4 linked regions of the Homo sapiens genome follow. The protein of the gene in region 4 interacts with the protein of the main gene of each other region in a pairwise test. Each region holds a gene or a part of one and is shown on either strand. Other genes may lie near its edges. The genes, in order: CAPN1, ACTC1, PDE4DIP and MYBPC3.

Region 1 (7,038 bases), about 18 Mb from region 4:
CATTAGTCTGATAAAAGGTATCCACAAAAAACCTAGATTAGAAAGGTACTTAGTGGTGAAAACTTCCCCTTTAAGAGTGAGGCTTAGTTAATAGGGTTGCTCCTAAAAATAAGAATAAAAAAAAGGGAGGAACAAGAGCAGGAAGCTCTACAGTTCTAGGCAGCATATTAGACAAGAAAAAGTAACAAAAGTTGTAAGAATTAGAAAAGAAGAAACAATCTGTCATTATTTGCAGATGCTATATTCCTAATTAGAAAACCAAAAAGGGCTGGACGCAGTGGCTCACTGTAATCCCAGCACTTTGGGAGGCCAAGGCAGGCAGATCACCTGAGGTCAGGAGTTCGAGACCACCCTGGCCAACATGGTGAAACCCTGTCTCTAATAAAAATACAAAAATTAGCCAGGTGTGGTGCCGCACGCCTGTAATCCCAGCTACTCGGGAAGCTGAGGCACGAGAATCACTTGAACCAGGGAAGCAGAAGTTGTAGTGAGCTAAGATCGTGCCAAAAAATACATACAGATGAATCAGTAAGATTAATTAGTTTTAAAAAATTTGCTGGATATAAAAACTACATCTAAAAGGTCAAATGCATGTTATCGTATGAGCAACAAGATCACTTGGGAGATGTAATTTTAAAGAACATACTATTTATAATAGAAACAAAATTATAGTGTACCTAGCATTAAATCTCAAGAGATGTATAAATTCTTTATGATAAAAAATACAACATTCTATTGAAAGACATTAAAGGCCAAAATAAATGAAGAGATACACCATATCCTTGGATAAGACTTAAAATTATAAAAATGTCAAGTCTCCCCAAATTGGTCTATAGGTTTCATGTAATTCCAAATTAAAATCTCAAAATGGTTTTTCAAAAGACTTGGTAAACTGATTCTAAAATTCATTTGGAAAAACAGAGGTCAAGAACAGCTAAGACAGATGCAGTGGCTCACGCCTGTAATCCCAGCAATTTGGGAGGCTAAGCCAGGTGGATCACTTGAGTTTGAAACCAGCCTGGCCAACATGGTGAAACCCCGTCTCTACTAAAAATACAAACATTAGCTGGATGTGGTGGCGGGCACCTGTAATCACAGCTACTCAGGAGGTTGAGGCAGAAGCATCATCTGAACCCAGGAGGCAGAGGTTGCAGTGAGCCGAGATCGCGCCACTGCACTCCAGCCTGGGCAACAGAGCAAGACTCCGTCTCAAAAAACAAAAACAAAAACAAAAAAAACCAACAACAAAAAAAACAGCTAAGAGACTCTTGAAGAAGGAATTTGCCCTGTCCAACAGCAGGACTTACACATCTGTAGTAATGGATTCAATGTGTTATCGGCAGAGGGATAGACCCAGGGACAGAATGGTGAGTCCAGAAACAGACCAACACATACCTCAGGACTACTTGAGGGCGCTAGTGCTGCTGGGGAGAGACGAGATGATGTATTTCTCAATAAATGGTACAGGGAACGGTGGTTATCTATTTGGGGAAAGACTGAAATTGGATCCCTACAAGGGAGAAGAATGCTTCAAAACAGAGGGCAGGGAGCCGTGCTGAGGATGCAGCACAGGAGGACAGAGCAGCGGCGGATCTGGCAAGGCCAAAGCTTAAGTGACCTTTGAGAGGGTGGTTTTAGCAGCATGGTAGGGATGAAGCTGGACTGGGAAGGGTTAAGCAATGAAGCAGAAGTGAGAAAGGAAATAGGGAGTATGGTAATTCCTGATAAATTGTGCTTTGAAGGAGGGCGGAGAAATGAACAGGGAAGTGGGGTCGAGAGGGTTGCTTTGTGTTAAGACAGAGGACTCTCCGTAATGACACTGGAGAGAGAGGTGACAGATGAAGGAGCAAATGCTTTCAGAGGTGAGGGAGAATGGGATCTGGAGCAGACGTGGGGGTCCCCATGAACAGGGACTGTTCTGCCACTGTCGCAGGTGGGGAGGCGATGAGGACACAGGCACAGGTGCAGAAGGCTGGGGGATTTGGAGGTGGGAACACAAGGTGTCCTGCAGGATGAAGTCTATCTTTTCAGTGAAGTGCAAGGCCAGGCCCGAAGGTGAGAGTAACAGTGGGGAGATATCGAGGTGAGAGTGGAAATGTTACTAACCAGTAGTGGAATTGCTGGGGATTATGGAAAATGCTCATTTGAGATTTGTGGCTAAGAATTTACAGGGAAAATATGGCATCGGTTATGTGATTTCTCTCCTGCCACACTCAATGGTTCCCAAGCCAGTGGAGATGGGTTTTGTGCCAGATGATGGGAGACAGGGGCCAGGGAACTGAAAGTGTTTGTAGGAACAAGATTAAAATGATAGCTCTAACCTAGGTAAGGAGAGAAGGCAAGATGGGAGAGGCAGGATGGTACGCAAGTGATGGGTTCAACGGACTGGCTTGGTCGAAGGGTTGAAGACTAAGGGAGTGGAAAGAGTCGAAGGTGGAGGTCAGAGAGCGGGTGTTTGCAAGACAAGGCAGCTCTGGTGCCCTCATGGTGGGGGCTGAGCTAAGGTAGAGAAAAAGCGTGCTGCAGTGAGAGTGACAAGGAACTGAGAGGCCAGGCTGTGGCCCACATCAGCCACATGGATCTAGAAGCCCAGGGAAAGGTGGCAAGAGAAGGCAAGAAGGGACCTGGCACAGTGGCGCACGCCTGTAATCCCAGCACTTTGGGAGGCCAAGGTGGTCGGATCACCTGAGGTCAGGAGATCGAGACCAGCCTGGCCAACATGGAGAAACCCTGCCTCTACTAAAAATACAAAAATTAGCTGGGTATGGTAGGTGCCTGTAATCCCAGCTACTCGGGAGGCTAAGGCAGGAGAATTGCTTGAATCCGGGAGATGGAGGTTGTAGTCAGCCAAGGCCACGCTACTGCACTCCAGCCTGGGCAACAGAGTGAGACTCTGTCTCAGAAAAAAAAAAGCGAAGGCAGGAGGGAAGGGCCCAGGAAAGGAGTGACAGGCAGGTGGCTGGATGGCCACAAGATCTTTGCCCCTCATGAGCACCCTGGGCTCAGGCCCCAAGACGGTGAGTCAAGCATGCCTCTTTAAAATTTACTAGGACATTTAATATTTTACTCCTCAAAGCAAATTCAAGAGATCAGCCTATATCTTGCAAGTGAGGAAACGGAGGCTCAGTAAGATGACGTGCCTTCTGGAGCCCCTAAGCCAGGAAGCAGCAAGACCCAGAGCCCGCCCCTGTGCACCTGGGTAGTTTCGGCAGCCCCCCGCGGTGCTCCCCCGCCGCCAGGTGCCTTCGTAGAGTGTGGTGTTCCATTTGCGGATGGTCCGGCTCTTGAGGGCGTCGGGTGTGAGGTTGCAGATCTCCAGGCGGGTGAACTCCCGCATGAAGTCTCGGAATGACATCCTGAGGTGGGAGGTACACAGGTGAGGCACAGCCCGTCAGGGCACAGAGCTGATGTGTAGGGGTGGAGAGGTGGGGTAGAAGGGGAGGGGGCGCTCACCAGAACTCCCCGTCCTCCATCTTGACCCGGAGCTGGTCCCGTTCATATGGGTCCACGTTGTTCCACTCTGAGGAGCTGTGAGGAGCAGGGCTCTGCCAGGGCTGGTGGGCACTGACCTGCCTGGCCTCTGTCCCTGGGGCCTGTCTACCCTGGCCTGTCTTCCCCCGGCCCAGCCCAGGTGGCCTCCTCAAGGTCAAGCGCCAAGGTTCCGCTTCTAGGGGGTGGTCTCATCAGGGCCAGTCTGATGCCCTGCACACACCCGACGGCTGGGCACAGGGGCCCGCACGGCCTGAGCTTTGTCAGAGCAGTCCCCCAGACCCAGTCGCGCGAAGATGGGCCCCTCTGCTCAATCCTGAGTCCAGCCTGGCCTGGTAGAGTCCCGAGCAGAAATGTCGGGGCACCTAACAGTTTCCCCAAGGCACTCCAGACAGTGCCCACTGCCCCTCACCTGTCGCTCCAGGCTCCCGTCCACTCCACCTCGCCCCAGGGGTTCCGCATCCGGATCAGGCTCACCACCTGGCCTCGGTAGTTCACCTATTTGCCAGAGCTCCTGTCAGTGCTAGCTTCCAGCAGGCACTTTTTTTTTTTTTCTTTTTTGAGACAGAGTCTTGCTCTGTCACCCAGGCTGGAGTGCAGTGGTGCGATCTCAGCTCACTGCAACCTCCGCCTCCTGGGTTCAAGCAATTCAATTCTCTTGCCTCAGCCTCCCAAATAGCTGGAATTACAGGCACCTGCCACCACACCCAGGTAGTTTTTGTATTTTTAGTAGAGACAGAGTTTCACCATGTTGGCCAGGCTGGTCTCGAACTCCTGACCTCAGGTGATCTGCCCACCTCAGCCTCCCAAAGTGTTGGGATTACAGGTGTGAGCCAGTGCACCTGGCCCATGCACGCACTTTAACACTCCGCCTCCCATACCCTCATCCTCTCCAAGCCCTGCTCAGCACCCAGATGAAGCCTGTCCTCTTGGAATTCACAGCCCAGGCAGGCAGCTGCACACATGAACTACAGTCAGTCAGGGCAGGACATGATAGGCATCTCAGATGGGTGTCCCCAGAAGAGAGATAAGGTGCTGCAGGAGGGGAAAGGAGGAGCCAGCACCTTCCACAGCCCTGGTCAGGTGCCAGAGAGGCAAGGACAGGCCAGGGGGCAGGAACCGCCCTTCAGGGAAGGCCCCACCCAGGGCAGTACCTGCTTGGCCCCGGTCACAGAGTAGGCATGGCCCTTCACCAACTTCTTGAAAGTGATGGCCTCCATGTCTAGAACGCTGGAGATCTGCAGAAAGAGGCACACACTGTGGTCAGTGGCTAGGTCCCCCCGCCCTATCAGATGAGCCCCCAGCACTCAGGGTCTTGGACGTTCCCACTTGCACATACAACAGTTGCTAGGAGAAGCAAGCAGGGACCCCGATCCCACCTATAGACACCCCCACATATAGATGCTGCTCTTTTGGAGAGGGGTAGCCTGGGTACCCCACCAATGCTGCCACTGGGACAGGGGAGCCCAGGCACTCCGCTGACACTGCTACTGGCCAGGGCTGACCAGAACCTGTGCGAACATGCATGTGCACACACACAGCCGTGCACAGCCCACCAGAGCCACACAGCCCTCAGTGGGCCTCACGGAGAAGGACGTGAGGACAGAAGAGTCAGTTAGAAATGGGAATGGGAGCTGGGGTTAGAGCTGCGGATGGCAGTGATACTGGGGTCAAGTCTGGCGTTGAGGACTGGGGAGCGGAGTTGAGTGTGGGAACAGAGGAGCAGGGAAGGGTGGGAATGGAGTGAGTGTGGGATTGAGGCTAGGGATGGGTGGGAACTGAGACCAGGAGATGAAATCTGAGGCTGGTGAACTGGACAGAGGATGGCATGGATTGAGATGACAGGAATGAGGGAAACAGCATGGTAGACGGGAAAACAAGCACAGGAAAGAGCTGAGGTGTGAAGTTTTGGGGGAGGAGTGGGTAGGTGAGGACAGGAGCGACACCAGGCATGGGGGGTGGAAGTGATGGATGAGGCAGGGTATGCATCCAGAGATGAAGCTTAAGTGCAGGACAGGGTCTGGAGCGGAGCCTGGGTGGGGATTTTAGAAAATGTGACAGGTCAGGATACCAGGGTTCCAGGGTACCAAAGCATCGGGGCCGGGCACACTCACGTCTATGGAGCAGCCCAGCAGGGAGCCCCGCTCCAGCGCCTTGAGGATGATCTGGTAGAGGTCACTGGGAGCCTTGCGCAACTCGTACCACTCGGTAACCCCGCCTGTGAAGTCCTCAAAGCCCTCTGAGGTGCTGCCCCCTGACAGGGCCTCGTAGCTGCCATTTACCCTGTGGGCAGCTCCAGGTCAGCACTCTGGCATCAAGCAGGACCCTCTGAGAAGACAGTCATGAGCCCCCACCCCTAGGGGGAGCTGGAAGCTGGAGTTGCCCCCTCAGCCGCTACTCACTTGGCATAGGCCTTCTCAAGCAGGGCGCTCCAGAACTCGTTGCCTTCGGCAGAGTGCACGAACACTAGCTTCCCGTCCTTGATGGGCAGCAGGTCATCCACGACCACGTCCACCCACTCCCCAAATTGCCACAGCTGTGGGGGAGGGGCACGGTGAGTACCTGCTTTGGAATCCCCCGGACCTGAGCTCCATCCTTACCCCTACCTTCCTAGATGCAGGATTCTACATCCCAGATACATACTAGATACACATAGACTAAATCATGTAAATTAGATACATACTAGATGTATACTAGGTCAGGTATACCAGATACATAGTAGATGCATGTATACTAAATCACATATACTAGATACATACTAGATGCATGTGTACCTCTAGATACATGTATGCTACAGATATACTAGATACATGTATCTAGGTATTGAAGGAAATCAAAGTATTTCACCCTGAAATATACTTCTTCAACATATTTTGAGATAGCTGTTCAGAGGGTCTGCAAACAGAAGTAGCCCTGTAATACTGTCTTTTGTGGGGGAGATTTGCATCTGTAGAGAAAATCTGCATTGATGTAGCCAGGCTTTCTCTAAGGCCTTCCCTTGTCAGACTGAGAGCCTGACACCCTTTAAAGGTCTGAACGAAACAATTACCATCTATTCCCTCTGAGGGCTGCTACCTGTGAGGTTTCATCTACATAACAAGACTGCCTTTGCTACCCAGGCCCCCTTTTCTCCCCCTTCCATAGTCTGTCTTGCCACTATAACCTGATTTACCACCAGAAACTGGTTTTGGCCATGTTCGAGCCCCCATTCTTCCTGTAACCTCAGGATGGTATATAGGCTTCTGTACCCATTGTGGGGCTGGGGTGAACACTCTGTGGTTCCCGACCCCACGCTGCAGGCTAATCAATTTGTATGCCATTTCTCCTACTAACCTCCTTTTGTGAGTTGATTTTTCAGTGAACCTTCAGAGGGCTAAGGGGATGCTTTCCTTTGCCTGTACAATGTATACTAGATACCTGCATATTTGCTGTATACTAATACATGCATACCACATATAGACATGTGTATACTTGATATGTACATGTATGCTCGAGACATACTAGCTACATGATCCTGGAAAAGTTATCGCCTCTGAGCCTCAGTTTCCC
Region 2 (7,293 bases), on a different chromosome or scaffold from region 4:
TGGGGACATTGTGAGTTACACCATCCCCAGAGTCCAGAACAATGCCTGCCCGGGGAAGTAGACAAGAACAAGGTAAATTCCTGAGGACAACACCACTGCTCTAGCCACGGCAAAGCCCGCTTCCAATCTTGGCTAAGAGATGCTAGCAATGGGCATTGATCCAGATAAAATTAGATTCCTTACACACAAAGAATAAAAATGCGCATCAGGAATACTAAATCTGAAGCAAACTGCAGCTCATCTTTTTAACTATTATAGTAGAAAAAATTCCCGAGGACACTTTCAAATGACCATCTTTCTTGTCAGCCACGAGCACATTATGTAAGCACCCAAGGGTGTTTTTCTTTGCTCCTATTGAACTTACACGTTTCTCTCTCTTTTGACTCAGACCCTGTATGGAATGTATTCTCCTTGGGGATGCTTGCCCAGGTGATGTGATGGTTTAAACACATAACAATGACTGCTGCACTCCAAGCTGCTACACTGCGCTGAGCTTTAAATGAGGGAAGGACCTATCTCCACAAGCTATCAGCTCCAACAATAATTGTGCTCCGAAACTAACCTCAGGGCACTACTGTTAACTCTTTCTCTTAGCACAGACCTTGCTAGGGAATGGGAGGAAAGGGATTATCCCTTTTTCAACTGGGGGATCTGATTCACAGCAAGGTCGGTGACTTGGGAATGTGATTCATCAGTAACTGTCCCCAGAGCCCAGCATACCTGTGGTACGGCCAGAAGCATACAGGGATAGCACTGCCTGGATGGCCACGTACATGGCAGGGACATTGAAGGTCTCAAACATGATCTGAGTCATCTTCTCCCGGTTGGCCTTGGGGTTCAGCGGGGCCTCTGTGAGCAGGGTGGGGTGCTCCTCGGGAGCCACACGGAGCTCATTGTAGAAGGTGTGGTGCCAGATCTTCTCCATGTCGTCCCAGTTGGTGATGATACCATGCTCGATGGGATACTTCAGGGTCAGGATGCCTCTCTTGCTCTGGGCTTCATCACCTACGTAGGAGTCCTTCTGACCCATACCCACCATAACTCCCTATGAGAAGAAAAAATGAGAAAATCATGCTCTCACCATGTCAGGAATATAATCAGTGTCTTGTCCATTTATATCTAACTGCCCAAGTCAAGGAACATATTTAAATACCAGAAATAACAAGCAATACGATTTTACCCCAATTTAGAAGAATTATTTAAAAATCAATCTTCTACCTTCTCCCCACTCCCCCAAAGATGTATAATTCTATTGTTGAGAATATAACTCAGGAGAGAATGAAGCTATTCCACTGAAGAAGCAGAGCCTCACCTCACCTTAAAAATATCATATGCCTTCATTAAGTTATTAAGCTCATCACCCATGTCAACTGGAATATAGATGACTGCATTTTGGAATGACTGAATTAATGACACATTGTATTTCTCCTAAGAAAAAGATTTTGACATTCAAGTGAACACATAATGATGGGCTGATATGCCATCCTCACTCCAACAGTGAAATTCAGCCTGTCCAGAGCTGTTCTGGAGTCATTCACCAGCTCTGAGGACTAAGCTCTCCTGCTTGGCAGCCTGTCTGGCCAGGCATGTGACAAACCCAGAGAGCATGGCATGTCTTTTAACAAACGAGGTGGTATGTCACTATCACCATGGCACTTGCTGCCTCTGTCACGCCTGGCTTCTAAAAATGCAACAGCCAGGAAGGAGATAGATTGATTACACCTTTGGGGAACCCTGTAAACTGGCTGTGAACATGAGAGAGGAATGTGGATTTGGTCCTGGTTGGTTGGGAGAGGTGATATTGTTAGAAGTTTTAAACAGGACTGAAAAGAGAGGACAAGGAAGAAAATGAAGTGTATAAGGCAGAGAAGACACTAAAGACTAAAAGTCCAAAAGGCCATTAGTGGAGAGAAGCAGGTGGCTTTCACACCAGGGAGTGGGACCCTTTTAGAGGCGTGCCACTCAGGTGTACATTCCTCAGTATGTTGGGGTTTTGTGGAGTATTGCTTGCCTTGGCTTGGATTTGAAGTCAATCAGCCTTCTCTTAATTTGGCCTAAAGAGTTCATCGAACAAGAGGGTCAGGTGAGAGCCATTTCCTAGATCGCTGGACTGAAGGGGTCCCGAGTGGGACGGGGGGCTCGGCGGGAAGTTTACCTGGTGCCGCGGGCGGCCCACGATGGACGGGAAGACAGCGCGGGGCGCGTCATCGCCCGCAAAGCCGGCCTTCACCAGCCCAGAGCCGTTGTCGCACACCAGGGCGGTGGTCTCCTCGTCGTCACACATCTTGGCACAGCTTCAGGGGGTTCTGCAGGTTGAGGAGGGGAGGGCGGACCACGCTTAGCTGCCTGTGCAGCTGGCCTTCTCCGCACCCAGAGGACAGGACAGAGCAGAAGGGGGTTGTGGGGACTGGACAGGGGGTTGGGCGGGGAACACTCCTGCCACCTCCCTTCCCCTCGAATCATAAAAGGGAGGGAAGAAGCCGCGGAGGAGACTGGGGACAGAGAAGGGCAGAGGAATCCACCCAGGCTCCCTGGCCAGGAGTTCCAGCTAGGGTGCCAGGTGCAAGGAGGGACCCAAGAAACCCAGCCCCTTAGTCCTCCCCAGCCCTTTAACTTTCTTCCTTTTCACGAACTGGGAACTCGATCTCCAGCCCTGTCCATATCGCCATGCCTGTGCCCCAGATGGAGGGGAAAGCGCACGAGAGTAGGGACCCAAAAGCCCCTTGGGGAGCCACAAAATTCCCCTTCTTAGAGCCCCTGCGAGGTCCTGCGAGGACCAACGCCCAGGACAAAACAAGTTAGAACCAAATCAAAAAGTGTGGGCTTTAAAAAAAAAAAAAAAAAGGCAGTCGCAGAGCGGCAGGAGCTGGGGCCTTGGCTGAATGCGGGCCGGGCTGGCCAGGTGGCGGCGCGGGGCTGGCGTCCGGCGCGGCCCGCGGACCAGGCGAGGAGTGAACGCGGAGGGCCGGGCGCTGACTCACCGTCGGCGGGGCGGGTCGGCTCGGCTCCGGCGGCAGCGGGCTCTGGGTGGCTGGCTCCAGGAGGGCCGCTTTATAGAACGCTGATGGACAGGGTCAGTTGGAGCAGCCGGGGGCAGGGGTGGGGGGCCCGGTCTGCCACCTTGCCTTATTTGGTCCCCTTCGCACCCGCTAGGACTGCCGAGGCCATTCATGGAGCCAAGGGCAGGGGAGAGGATCAGCCAGGGAGCCCCCAGACCATGTAAGGAAGGGGAGGGGGCAGTCAGGGGGATGGCCAAATAGGGAGCTGGGGAGGGGCAGGCGCTGAAGGGTAGGGGGCAGGGGAAGACTAAGTGACGCCAGCCCACCCCTCCCCCTTTCTGGGGTGTGGGTGCTCCCTGGATGGTCTGTGGATTCGGTCCTCCGCAGCCCTGCCAGCCTTGGGGACAATAAGCCACATGCAGTGGGAAGGCTTGGCGCCCTGCCCTCTGCTGAGGGGTCCTGACAGCTGGGCCAGGGCAGCAGGGGAGCAACAGCGGCTTCTCATCTTCCAGGGCTGCCACCAGCACAAAGGACACCGCAGCAGCACATCTGAGTGGCTGCAAAAGGGGCACCCAGGACAGGGCACCCTTCTGGTCTAGTCCCCGCCAGCCTGAATGGCTTTACTCAGAGAGCTGGTGCTGGGCTCATCTAGGTCAGAAAGCTGAGATTAACCAAGGCCACCCGAGTTCCAACCCATGCATGGATCAGGGTCTGGCCAGGGAAGAGTCAGAAAAGGGTTTCTGTGAGAGCTTGGCCAAGTCTTGCTGGAGAAGGGACCAGGTTTACCCCAGCCCAGTTATTGGGTAGCCCTCATCCATGCTGCAGGGTTTTGCTCAAATTCAGACTCTGGTCTTCAGGCCAGAAAAGGATCCCCTGCTGCCAAAGTGAATAAAGGAACAAATGCCAAAAGTAGCTTGCCCACTTGATGGTGGGGAGATGAGCATCTTTAAACTGGGGGCAGAGGCCCTCACTCCAGGTGGAGACAAGACTGCAAAGGCAAATACTTTGATGGAGAACATAGCAACAACTTAAACTATAGGACTACACCAATCCTTGCTACTCAAAGTGCAGCCCATGGACAAGCAGTATTGTCATAACCTGGAAATGAGCTAGAAATGCAATCTCAAGAGCCATCCCAATCCGCTTTTCAGCAAGATCCTCATTTGCTTGGTATGTACATTAAAGTGTGAGAAGCATTGGCATAAATGACAGATATCATCTCCTCTGTGGAAAACAGATTTTGCAGGATCTTGAACTTTTGAGAAGGAAAAAGAAAAATGACATGAAATGAGGAGAGGGAGAAGGAAGAGGGAGATGTAAGAAGGACACAGATCACTAGTTTGCCCTGGGGTGCCCTGCATTCTCAGTTCTTGACTGGAGCTTTGATTTTTAATGCTTGTGTTTTTCCTCCAGTTCACACCAGTTAAAAATAGAAAACTGGGCACTGGCATCTCTCTCTAGAGTGGTCTTGGGCTGATATGCTGAGGAGGCCTGCTGATTAGATACTTGTCCCGACTGGGGAATGCTGGGCCCTCCCCTCTGAACTCCCCAACCATGTTTGGGTTGGTCTGGAGAAGAAACGCGATGGGCAGCTGTGTGGTGGGGTCGGGTAAGAGACCTGGCTGAGATTACTCTGTGCAGCACAGCAGGCATTTTACAGTGAAAATGTTTATTGACAGGATGCCAAGAGTAGAACTGCCTTGTCTCGTGAAAATATAGAAAAACCAAGGAAAAGGAGAAATGGGACTGGTGTCAGAGCCAGACAGAACTGGGCTCAAATGCTGCCTTTATCACTTACTAACTATCTGTTTGGTCTTGAGCAAGACACTTAACCTTCCCAAGCCCCAAGTTTTCCCTCTCAAAAGTGATACCATAACACTTGTTGCAGAAGTTATTGTGTATTGTAATAGTTAGAAACAAATGCTGTAAGTAATATGGAAGATACAAAGCAAATTGTATGTGTAATAATGATACTTTTGGAGGCAGTAGTAGCTCTGCCTTTTAAAGAATCAGGTTGATTTCATTCTTCATTGATTCAGCAAATCTTTGCAGGACAAGAACTGTGCTAGTTAAGGATTCAGTGATAAATAAAACAGAGCAGGACTCATCCTCCGTGGCAATTACAGAAAAGTCAGACAGCTATGGCACAAACTGGGAGGGAAGAAGAGGTATCAGCAGGATAGTCACAAAAAGGGAATGGAGGTCTGAAAGAGTTGCCGAGAAAGCCTTCCCCAGGATGTGTTGTTCGTTTTTAAAAGTAGAGCAGAACTGAAGTTTATGAACATTTGTGTGAGAGAAAGAGTTTCTGCATGGGAGTGGCTGGTGAGAGACTCCCACTATGACTGCTATAGGTGCAAAGACTCTCAGGAATGGAAAACCATGATTATTGACCTTTGTCCTTCGCACAGGCTTCGGGGATCTAGGAGGCCACTTCCAGCCCCCTCATCTCAGGACCATTGGCTCTAGTGGGAGGCCAGTAGAACAGTGCAGGACACAACAGCAGTTTTGTGAAACAATATTCACCCTTAAAATGTTTGAAAAATGTGTTTCCTATTCCGCTCAATTTCATTGCCTAACACTCAAAACAGTGTATTTTCATATGTGTTATGTGTGTAGCAAGAACGAATGCTTATTTCTTAAAAATTTATGATTGTTTGATATTTACTATTTGTATTACCACTCAATTTCCACATTTTATTTATTTTATTTTTATGTATTTGTTTGTTTGCTTCAGACAGGGTCTCCCTCTGTTACCCAGGTATAATCAGGTGCGGTGGTATAATCAGGGCTCACTGCAGCCTCAACCTCCCAGGCTCAGGTGATCCTCCCACCTTAGCCGATTCTCCCACCTTAGCTGATCCTCCCATCTCAGCCTCCCAAACAGCTGGGACTGCAGGCACATGCCAACACACCCCGCTAATTTTTGTATTTTTTGAAGAGACGGGGTTTCACTATGTTGCCTAAGCTGGTCTCAAGCTCCTGGGCTCAACTGATCTGCCAGCCTCAGCTTCCCAAAGTGCTGGGATTACAGGCATGAGCCACCAAGCCTGGCCTTGATTTCCACATTTTAAAAACTTTGAACCCTATTTTATATATTTTAAAATGTAAACCAACAGGAAAGTAAGATTTCATGACTGAGTTTTATTTAAACTACTTTTTACAGATCCACTTAATTTGAAAATTGAGATTGGCTTTTTAAGCATATAAAAATGACATCTCAAAAAAAATTACAAAACAAAGAAGAAAAAAATGACATCTCCTCTTTGGTACATTCTAGATTTTTTTTTAATTATGGTAAAATATGCATATATCAAATTTACTATCTTAACCATTTAGGAATACAGAGTTCAAAAGTGTTCAGTGCATTCACATTGTTGTGCAGTCTCCGAGTGTTATTTTTTTTATTGCTAATTGTGACTAAATTGTGCTTCCTGCAGTTTGAGAAAGACCAGTTTATATCCTATGAGGTAGGGAACCACTGAGCCTTTTTTGTCTGAGGTCACACAGGTGAGCAAATGGTGGAGTGACAATTCAAACTCAGGCACCTGATTTTAAGCCCTATTCCCAACCACCACCAAAAATACCTTCACATATACTTGGTCTGCTATTTCTCAGAATGTGATGCTAGAACCGCCTCCAGCCAAATTACCTAGACTGCCTCATAGAAATTCAGATTCCTGGGTTCCACCCTGGAAGATTGAATCTGCATTTTAAATGAGCCCTCACTGTTCTCCCCTAGGTATGTTTCTCTGCAGAGTGAAAAACTTAGCCGCACTGCTTGGCTGTTCTCTCTGAAGCCCACAGAGCTTTGCTGGATGCTGCCCAAGCTGCCAGTGCTGGCTGGAGTCCAGGTTGGCTGACCTTGTAGATCCCAGTGGGATGGCAGAGCTGGGGCGGGTCCCCAGGGCTCTTGAGGGCCAGTGAAGCCCTTTTCGGCGTGGACTGGCCATGAGGGAGACGTGCAGGGCAAACTGAAGGAACAGAAGGTGGGACAGTTCCCACTGCCCTTGCCTCGGGGGAAGTCTGTTTCATCCACCATCTGCTGGGATCTGGAAGGGAGCGGCCCAGCCTCCTCCCCGGCACTGGGGGATTAGCAGTCACTTATCTCAGCTGTTCCTCCGTTCGGAGGTGTCACAGTATTTACAGAGAAGCCAGAAACAGACAGAGCCACACTTAATTCCTCCCCATGAGCCCTCCCCATCACCTCCTGTCCCTCCTGCATTCTGTGTGCCGGGGGAGGGAGAGCCTCGGTTTAGATCAGACCGGGGGGAGGATCTAGCCTTCCTAAACATTC
Region 3 (4,127 bases), on a different chromosome or scaffold from region 4:
TCTCACCCCAGCATAACACTTCTGAACTCTCAATCTTACCTGTGAAGGGAGAGTGACAGAACTGATATCAGGACTAAAGCAAGGTCCTCTTCAGAGTTGGGAGTTTGATACCAGCCTGAGGCGAGGTTCTCTTAAGCTACAGGTGTGTAGGCCTGTGCTAGTCTGCATGGGGAATTCCAGAGTCTCATTATTCCTGCCTAATGGCCTCATCCTGAACTGTCCTCAGCTGGAGGTATCCGAGGCTGTGAAGGAGGAAATCCAGTTCAAGAGAGTTGAGAAGACTGTAGAATCCTTCTTTGAATTGGAAAGAGCCACAAAGCACAGGGTGCTTTAGGCCTTCTGCCTGGTCAGTAAGAGTCTGTTCCTCTTATCCAGGGAGAATCAACAGAAAGGGAACTTCTGGAACTGAGAACCAAAGTATCCAAACAGGAGCGACTCCTTCAGAGCACAACTGAGCATCTGAAGAACGCCAACCAGCAGAAGGAGAGCATGGAGCAGTTCATCGTCAGCCAGCGTAGGTTCCCTGAGAGGGAATGGGGGAAGAAACAGGCAGTCTTCCCGATGCCCCACTTGTGCTGCAGATGAGCAGTGACCAGGGGGGCTTGGGGATGTTGGGAGTTGAGACTGATTTGATGTCCCCAAACCTCCTGTACCAGGAGCAATTGTGGCTGCAGAGGGAGGGGAGGACAGGGGGTGGATAGAAGGAGACTCCAAGCTGAATAGCCAGAAAGAAATAAATGCTTTAGAATTCTCATGCTAAGCAAGTAGGGTTAATTTCTGCTGGTGGTTTCTACTCTGTGGTGCTCTTTTGTTGTTTCAGTAACCAGAACACATGATGTTTTAAAGAAGGCAAGGACTAACTTAGAGGTAAGGAAACTACTGCACCAGTCAGAGGCACCAAGCCTGTCCCCCACCCATCACCATCCGTTAGCAGATCTTGTAGGTGACCCTTGGCCTGCTTTGGCCTTCCAGGAGAAGACTTGGGGTCCACTTGCAAGATCACAGGTCCTCAGTGAGCATCCTGCTAGTTTCTGTCCCCATCACCCTCCCACCCCGTCAGCTCCTGCCCCTGTATCTTGGTTCACTCTCACATTGTCATCATCTCTCCTTTTTACTCCAATTTTTCTTCTTTGAGGCCAAGTTCAGAGACTGGAGAAATGCAATTCAGCTGACTCTTGAAGTCATTAGACATTCGGGAGTCTGCCTCTGAATGAGCTTCTAGTAGAGGGATCTTGAGGCCAGTTATGTGTTCTACTCTTCATGAAAAAGTAAAAGCAATTTGCAACCTAATAAACTGATTTCACTGCACATTCCCGGGTTAAGAACAGCAATTTGATTTTGCTATATCTTTAAGTAACATGACAAAAGAGATCTGTTGGGTCTCATTGGTCTAAAAGCGAATTTGTTAATAAATAACAACTGAACCTTCAGGGAAAAAATGTTATATATGTACCAGACATTATCTACATTTACTTAAAACACTAAGTGTTAATCATTCCCTAGGAAGTGCTTTGAAGAAAAACTTGAGGTATATGAAATGGTTAAAAATCAGAAACTAAACCTTTTAACATGGACATCAAAGCTTTGCCATAAGCAATTCAGCATATTCCTAGAAATGTTTCTAATCCATAACCTGAGAGAATGTTGATCTCCATAGTGTGAAAATGACTTGGGCCAGTTTAACTTGCTCTTTTTTTTATTTTTTCACTAATTCCCTTTTGTTTTTCTCTGATAATTCTTCTCTTTCCTGAGCCTCTTTAGAGCAGCACTTACAGGATTGCCTCTGTAAAGCCTTATTCCTGTCCCAGAAAAGGTAATCCAAAAAGTCTCTAGTATCCACTAAAAGGTAACCCAAAAATCTCTAGTATCCACTGGCTTTCTCCAGTGTGGAAGCTTTCCCCTCCACCTCCCATAGATCACTGGAAAGGACCCGAGGCCTCGGTTCTAATCCCTGGCTTATCACTAACTGCTGTGTGGCTTTGGCTTGTCCCTTAGTCTCTGTGAGACTGCTGCACCCTCATCTGTCAAAGATGGAACTGGACTTAGTTGAGCTCTGAGGTCCCTGTGGACTTGGCCCCTCCACACCCTCATTATGGCAACTGGACATAAACTTAACAGAGGGCTTCCCAGCAAAATGTCCTCTTCTTCCTACAAACAGGCTGTTTCTATATGTGCATGTTTCATGCTAAGCACTTCTTTCTTGGGTGGACATGGCAAAGGCCTCTTTCTGCTGAGACAAAGTGATTTGGAGAGTCACCTGGCCCCTGAAGGGGGAGTGGTAGGATCCAGCCACCCAGTGTGCAGTGAATTGGAGCAGGGATCTCAGCACACAGGGAGGTGGGGAGGCTCCCCCTAACCTCGGGCACCTGTTGCTCCTCCAGACTGCAGCGCATGCTCTTAGCTCATCCTCTTAACTGGCTCTCACCGTGCTCCTGGCTTTGGTCACCACGTAGCTCTCACTCCAGCTTCAGGTAGCCATCAGTAGGGCCTGGCAATATACACTGATTTGGTTTGTTTTATGTTTGTCTGCAGGTGAAATCCCTAAGGGCTCTGCCATGTACTCCAGCCTTGTGACCCTTGCCTTCCAGGAACCATGCAAGAAGCGCAGCCACCAGAAGTCCTTAAAACAGCAGGAAAGGTGGGCCTGTCCCCCTTTTGTGCAGCTACCTATCTGCTGAGGAGCATCTGGGCCTCATTCCTCCAAGTCCACGGGAGGGTCCAGAAGAGGGAGTCAGAGATGTATCCTGGTGGAGCTGGGAGAAAGGCAGAAAGCCTTTCTGACGGCTATGGAATACGATTAGCCAAGGTCCACTTGGCCCAGCACTAAGAAAAAGATGCGTAGTTTGCACAGAAGGTTTTGTGATCCTGCCTCTCAACAGCCCCAGCAGCTTGGGAACTAGCAAGAGCACATTTCTTGCCTCATCAGCTGTCCTGAGATGGAAAACTCAGTGAATATAGGACCCTGATTCCGATGAAAGGGGCACGTGGTCCCAATGCTGGAGCTCCTCTGGCAGGTTCTAAAAGCACACTACTGAGCAGCGGTGCCCTGCCGGACACTGCTGGCGGGGGCTCAGTGAGCACTACTCACAGATCCACACCTGACCCTGTTGGGTCGAGTCAGGCTGGGCCTTGGTCTGCACTGTAGCACCTGTGTTCTTTGAGTTCACATCATGAATGTGGTGACTTCCCAGATACCATCTCAGGCTTAACCTAGCACATCCTATTTCTTTTCTTCTATGATATCCAAATTGGACTGACCTCACTTCAAAGTTGCTGTCCCATTTTGTCACCCTATCTTATCTCGGGGAAATTGCAGACTGATGGCCAGACCAACTCTGTTGAAATTCTTGCATAGAGCAAACCTGTGCTCATTTTTAAGTGGCATGGGAGAGGCCCCAAGCCTAGTAAAGCCTAGTCTGTGTCTTCACAGTGCTGGTAGAATGTGTTTGTGTGTATAAATATATGATATAGATTTATATATGTTGCTAACGCCATATATTGAAGGCCAACATAACTGGTGGACAGGGTGGGTGACAGAAAATGAAAGTCTTTTTGGTGATTGTTAAAGCAAAATGTGTATAAAGAAATAAATAGTTTTTCTTTCACTGCTTTGTTTCCCATTTCTGCACCAATCCCTTGACAGTATAAAGAACTGGAAAGAGAAAATGGGAAAGACAAACTGTGTTTAAGAAGCATATAGTCTAATGCTTGAACTCTAACTTTAAAAGATTAAGGTTTTCCTTCTTTGTCATTTTGTAAGAATCCCCAGTCTGAAAATATGAAAGAATGGTTCTTAAACTTGGTGTGCCTGAGAAGCAGCTGTGGAGATTATAGGAGCTACCTCCTGGTCTCCAATCCCAGGAGATTTAGTTGGTGTGAGCCCTAGAATCTGCATTTTTTTAATATAAGCACCCCAGGTGATTCCATTACATGTGGGCTTCAGATCACAGTTTAAAAAACAGTGTTCTATAACATTGAATCAAAACTAAAACTACATTTAAGAACCTTGAATCAAAAAGTATGTCATTCCATAAACATTGATATAAAAATTTTAAAATATTCCTTGGGAAAAGTTCTTAGCTACATGCTTTTGATTCCCAAGATTAAAATAAGCTATCACTTCACAA
Region 4 (4,835 bases):
AATGCACTTTCCGCTGTCACAGCTCAGTTTCATCATCTGAAGAGTGAATGCTGTAGGGGAAGACAGGTTCCTTCTAGCGTTAATGTTTTATGAACTCAGAAACCACTCTGGGCCTGGTTTAATCATCGGGAAAACAAAACAAAAAACAGTATCTGCTCTCACTTTGCTGTGAAGATCAATGTCCCTGGGCTTTTTTCTTTTTTTTTTTTTGAGACATGGTCTCACTCCATCACCCAGGCTGAAGTGCAGTGGCATGATCTCGGCCCACCTCAAACTCTACCTCCTGGGTTCAGGTGATTCTCCTGCCTCAGCCTTCCAAATAGCTGGGATTATAGGCGCGCCACCTTGCCCAGCTAATTTTTGTATTTTTAGTAGAGACGGGGTTTCACCATGTTGGCCAGGCTGGTCTTGATCTCCTGACCTCAGGTGATCGGCCCGCCTCCGCCTCCCAAAGTGCTGGGATAACAGGCATGAGCCACCGCACCTGGCCATCCCCTGTGCATTTTTATGAAAACAGGCACACCGAAATTGAGAAGAGTGAGTTCTCTGTGACTGCACTTATCTTTTATTGCCCAATAAACATTGGGAAGACATAGCAGGCCAGAAAGGCCTGTCCCCAGACATTGTTTCTTGAGGCCACCCTCCTTTTACCCCAAAGATCCAGGGGCTTCCTTCAGGAGCCCTGTGGACCAGTCTGTGCAACACCCACTCAGGACTGCCCGACAACTGCCCTGCTGATCCCCCATCGCAGCACAGGAGACACACTTGTCACACATACATCCAACAGTAGGGAGGGGTTTCCCCAACTTCCCTCCAGGCTCCTGGCACGGGGCTGGCATCCGGTTGTACCTGCAACACAGGTTATCTTACGAGTGAATGGAGGGCCCCTACAGCCTCCCATTTACTGATGGCTGCCCCAGGACCAAGGGCCAGGGCTCAGCCACTGACTTGTGCCCTGGGTGTCGGGTGGTACATACCTGGCCATCCCCAGGAGCCAGCCTGGTCACTGAGGCACTGCAGAAGAGGAGGCCATGTCACTGTGTCCTCCCAGCCTTCTGGAAGCTATTGCCCATCTGGGCGTGGCAGGGTCCGTGCCCTTGCAGCCAGGGCAGGTGCTTGGCCGAGGACAACGGAGCAAAGCCCAGGGTCCCCACTGCCGCCCGCTCTTCCCATCTCCCAGGCCCTGGCCCCGAGGGCTCCTCACCTCGCACCTCCAGGCGGCACTCACACCGTGCCTCGCCCTGTAAGTTGGTGGCCCTGCAGACATAGATGCCCCCGTCAAAGGGGCAGGGCTTTCTAATCTCCAGAGTCAACACTCCCTGCTTGCTGAACATGCGGAAGCGGGCGTCTTCTCCCAGGTCCAGGCCATTCTTGAACCAGGAAATCTTGGGCTATAAATAAGGTAAAGAGAGGGAGGGAAGCCATCCAGGCTGAGAGGGGACCTGGCAGGGACCCAGGGAGACACATCTGTGTTTCTACTCGGGGGGTCCCACGAGAGTCCCTGACTATGCCCAAGGCTGGAAACAAACATGGAACCAAGAGTGAGTACCATGGCCCTGCCCAGGGGGAGGAACCCGGTCCATACACCCCAAGGTGGAGAGAAAGCAGGGGAGACAGGCTGGGGAGAGGACTGCTCAACGTCGGGGCCTGTGAGCCCTGCCTCCTGGTCGGCCTGGACCAGCGCCTAAAGTTCCCTACCTTGGGGCTACCCCGGACAGCACAGCAGAGCATAGCAGTGTAGCCCGCGATGACCGAGCGGTTCACCAGGGGCTGGGTGAAGCTTGGGGCCTCGGAGAAGTCCAGGGCCTTATAGTTGGGTGGCTCATAGGTGATGCCTGTTGGTGACAGGACTTGGTACCGAGAGGGCCACACAAAGCTAGGCCCCTCTCCCTGTTCCCACAGCCTCCCTGCCCCAGCCCCTGGTTGGAAGAATGAGGGTACAGCACCTGGTCTGGGGATAAAGACGGGCTCCTTGGTGGTGGCCGCTCTGTCACTAAAGCCAACCATATTCTGGCTGAAGACGCGGAAGTAGTAGCCATTGCCAATGATGAGCTCTGGCACCACGCAGTGGGTGCGGCGGTAATGCTCCAAGACGGTGAACCACTCCTGGGGGCAGGGAGGGAGGGGAGGCATCTCTGGGCCAGGCCCTTCCTGATGCCGAGAGCCTCTCCTGGGTGCCCTTGGCATCTCCACCCCTACTATGGAGGGATTCAGATCAGCAGAGGGAGGGTGAGGGGTCCACGGTGAGGACAGTGAAGGGTAGCTGCGGCCTGGGTCTGCCGGGCCTAGGCAGGGTGCACGTGGGGACCCCAGACCCTGGGCTCACCATGGTCTTCTTGTCGGCTTTCTGCACTGTGTACCCCCAGAGCTCCGTGTTGCCGACATCCTGGGGTGGCTTCCACTCCAGAGCCACATTAAGACCCCAGGCGTCAGTCACCCGGAGATCCTGGGGAGGACTTGGCTTGTCTGCGGGAGACAGACCCAGTTGGGTCACCACGCCTCCTGACAGTGAGCAGGGGGTCACTGGCTCCAGGGACCACCCCACCCCTGCCAACCAGGGCCAGGCCTGCTGGGGCAGTGGACTGGAAAATGTGAGCTGTGGGTTGGGTCCCCTGGCCCCACCCTTGGCCCCAGCAGCCCAGCCCAGGGAAGGGAAACAAGGGGGCTCAAGGAGGCCTTGGCCACGCACCAACAACCTGCAGCACCAGCGTGGCCTTGTCCTCCATGTTCTCAATGCGCACCGTCACCTGGTAAGTGCCTGAATGCACGCGGCGAGCGGCCCGGATGAACAGGATGGTGTCTGTGGGGCTGTTGCGGATGCTCACCTCCTCGCCTGCCAGGGGCTGCCCCTCTTTGGTCCAGGTCACCTGAGGCCGGGGCTTGCCCTGAGGGGAGGAAAAGCTTAACCCTGAACCTGGATCACTCCAAGGGCCGGCCGCCACCCCAGCCTCTGGTACCTCAGATCAGGCCAGCCCTGAGACATCAGTCCACTGGATGGGAACAACACACTATAGCCTCTCTCCCCTGGGGGACAGGGAAGGGGGCCAGTCCCACCTGGAAAGGGATGAGAAGGTTCACAGGCTCCCCGACCTTCTTCTGAATGGTCTGGCGCAGGTGCCTGGGCAGCTGAAGCCGTGGCCGTTCTGTGGGTATAGAGTGGGTAGCTAAGTGAGGGCCCGCCACAGCTCTGAGGGGCTCCACAGCTCCAACCTCCCTTGAGACAAGGCCCAGAGAGCTGCAGCTAAGAAAAAAGCTGCCTGCTGGGCCCTGCGCCTCCTTTAGCTCCTGCTAACACAGCAACTCCAGGCTGCCCAAGCCCAGCTGGCTTCCCCGAGCCTCACCACTTCAAAAGGCAGGGATCAGAGAGGGTAAGCAACTTGACTGAAGTCACACAGCTAGTAAGTCATAGACCAGGGTGTAAGCCTGGGCTTTGACACCCTATGCCCTGTGTTGTTACCACCTGAGTTTGCTGCCTCGTTCCAGCTTTGAGAACCAATCCTTACAAAAGATGGACCCTTTGTTGGGACAAGGAACAAAGGAATGGGAAGTGGATCCCAGAGGGACCAATCTGACTACATAGACAATATTTACCTGTTGGAGCTGAGACACTCCTGGAAGAGAGCTTGGGTACTGTGGCTTTTACTTTCCCTGTTCCAGAACTAAGGGACTGACATACACCAAGAGAGCCCTTTCTGCACTTTTTTTTTTTTTGAGACGTTGTCTCACTCTGTCACCCAGACTGGAGTGCAATAGTGTGATCTCAGCTCATTGCAACTGCCACCTCCCGGGTCCAAGCGATTCTTCTGCCTCAGCCTCCCAAGTAGTTGAGGGACTACAGGCACGCGCCACCACACCTGGCTAGTTTTTGTATTTTTAGTAGAGACAGGGTTTCACTATGTTGGCCAGGCTGGTCTCAAACTCCTGACCTCAAGTGATCTGCCTGCCTTGGCCTCCTAAAGTGCTGGGATTACAGGCTTGAGCCACTGTGCCTGGCCACCCTCTCTGCACTTTTTCCCTAGGCCTAGCGCATGGACGATGGCTCCAACCCCTCCTGTCTCTGCCCAGCGTTCTGGGCAGAGCATTCTGGGCCTCCCCAACTGTCCCCACCTCCACTGGACACCAAGGGCCTGGGGTGTCAATGGCGGGTCTTGTGACTGCACAAAGGGGCACTCACGCAGGATCTCCTGCACTGTCACCGGCTCCGTGGTGGTAACAGGGGCTCCAGGCCCTGCCATATTGTGTGCCCGCACTCGGAAAAGCAGCCGGGCCCCCGTGGGCAGGTCCTTCACCAGTATCGATGTGTGCTCTGTCAGCCCCTGCAGGGCAGCCACCCACTCTGAGCCTGGGGGTGGGGAGGGGGAGGCAAGGCCACAGGCTGTGTCACCACTGACACCCCACTCCCACTGCCCACTCCTCTGATAGGAATCTCCAGGATTTAAATATGTTTTTTTAAATTTTTATTTGTTTATTTATTTTTGAGATGGAGTTTCGCTCTTGTCTCCCAGGCTGGAGTGCAATGGCATGATCTTGGCTCACCGCAACTTCTGCCTCCCGAGTTCAAGTGATTCTCCTGCCTCAGCCTCCCGCGTAGCTGGGATCACAGGTGCCCACCACCACACCCGGCTAATTTTGTATTTTTAGTAGAGACGGGGTTTCTCCACGTTGGTCAGACTGGTCTCGAACTCCCGACCTCAGGTGATCCGCCCACCTTGGCCTCCCAAAGTGCTGGGATTACAGGCGTAAGCCATCGCGCCTGGCCTTAAATATGTTTTTAAAATGTAGTTGCTGATTTCGCACTGCTCAAAGAAGTGTTACAGTCAGCTTTACTCTGCATT

The links.
Region 1: the proteins of MYBPC3 (region 4) and CAPN1 interact in a two-hybrid assay, tested with the Homo sapiens proteins (one study listed by BioGRID).
Region 2: the proteins of MYBPC3 (region 4) and ACTC1 interact in a two-hybrid assay, tested with the Homo sapiens proteins (2 studies listed by IntAct).
Region 3: the proteins of MYBPC3 (region 4) and PDE4DIP interact in binary tests that used the Homo sapiens proteins (3 or more experiments, as listed by UniProt).

The regions. Positions count from the first base shown.
Region 1 is NC_000011.10:65,184,904-65,191,941, reverse strand, and holds part of CAPN1 (calpain-1 catalytic subunit), read right to left. Parts: intron 6,026-7,038; coding exon 5,892-6,025; intron 5,773-5,891; coding exon 5,604-5,772; intron 4,728-5,603; coding exon 4,644-4,727; intron 3,988-4,643; coding exon 3,902-3,987; intron 3,529-3,901; coding exon 3,454-3,528; intron 3,357-3,453; coding exon 3,196-3,356; intron 1-3,195. UniProt on the Homo sapiens protein: Calcium-regulated non-lysosomal thiol-protease which catalyzes limited proteolysis of substrates involved in cytoskeletal remodeling and signal transduction. Proteolytically cleaves CTBP1 at 'Asn-375', 'Gly-387' and 'His-409'.
Region 2 is NC_000015.10:34,792,525-34,799,817, forward strand, and holds the start of ACTC1 (actin, alpha cardiac muscle 1), read right to left. Parts: upstream 3,026-7,293; 5' UTR 2,982-3,025; exon of another isoform or gene 2,619-2,981; intron 2,385-2,618; exon of another isoform or gene 2,307-2,384; 5' UTR 2,285-2,306; coding exon 2,156-2,284; intron 1,594-2,155; exon of another isoform or gene 1,318-1,593; intron 1,046-1,317; coding exon 721-1,045; intron 46-720; coding exon 1-45. UniProt on the Homo sapiens protein: Actins are highly conserved proteins that are involved in various types of cell motility and are ubiquitously expressed in all eukaryotic cells.
Region 3 is NC_000001.11:149,029,412-149,033,538, forward strand, and holds the end of PDE4DIP (myomegalin), read left to right. Parts: intron 1-375; coding exon 376-514; intron 515-820; coding exon 821-867; intron 868-1,761; coding exon of another isoform or gene 1,762-1,813; intron 1,814-2,532; coding exon 2,533-2,574; coding exon of another isoform or gene 2,575-2,678; 3' UTR 2,679-3,605; downstream 3,606-4,127. UniProt on the Homo sapiens protein: Functions as an anchor sequestering components of the cAMP-dependent pathway to Golgi and/or centrosomes.
Region 4 is NC_000011.10:47,330,868-47,335,702, forward strand, and holds the end of MYBPC3 (myosin-binding protein C, cardiac-type), read right to left. Parts: intron 4,343-4,835; coding exon 4,175-4,342; intron 3,144-4,174; coding exon 3,055-3,143; intron 2,886-3,054; coding exon 2,690-2,885; intron 2,467-2,689; coding exon 2,327-2,466; intron 2,107-2,326; coding exon 1,947-2,106; intron 1,836-1,946; coding exon 1,699-1,835; intron 1,392-1,698; coding exon 1,205-1,391; intron 1,015-1,204; coding exon 1,004-1,014; 3' UTR 978-1,003; intron 850-977; 3' UTR 539-849; downstream 1-538. UniProt on the Homo sapiens protein: Thick filament-associated protein located in the crossbridge region of vertebrate striated muscle a bands. In vitro it binds MHC, F-actin and native thin filaments, and modifies the activity of actin-activated myosin ATPase.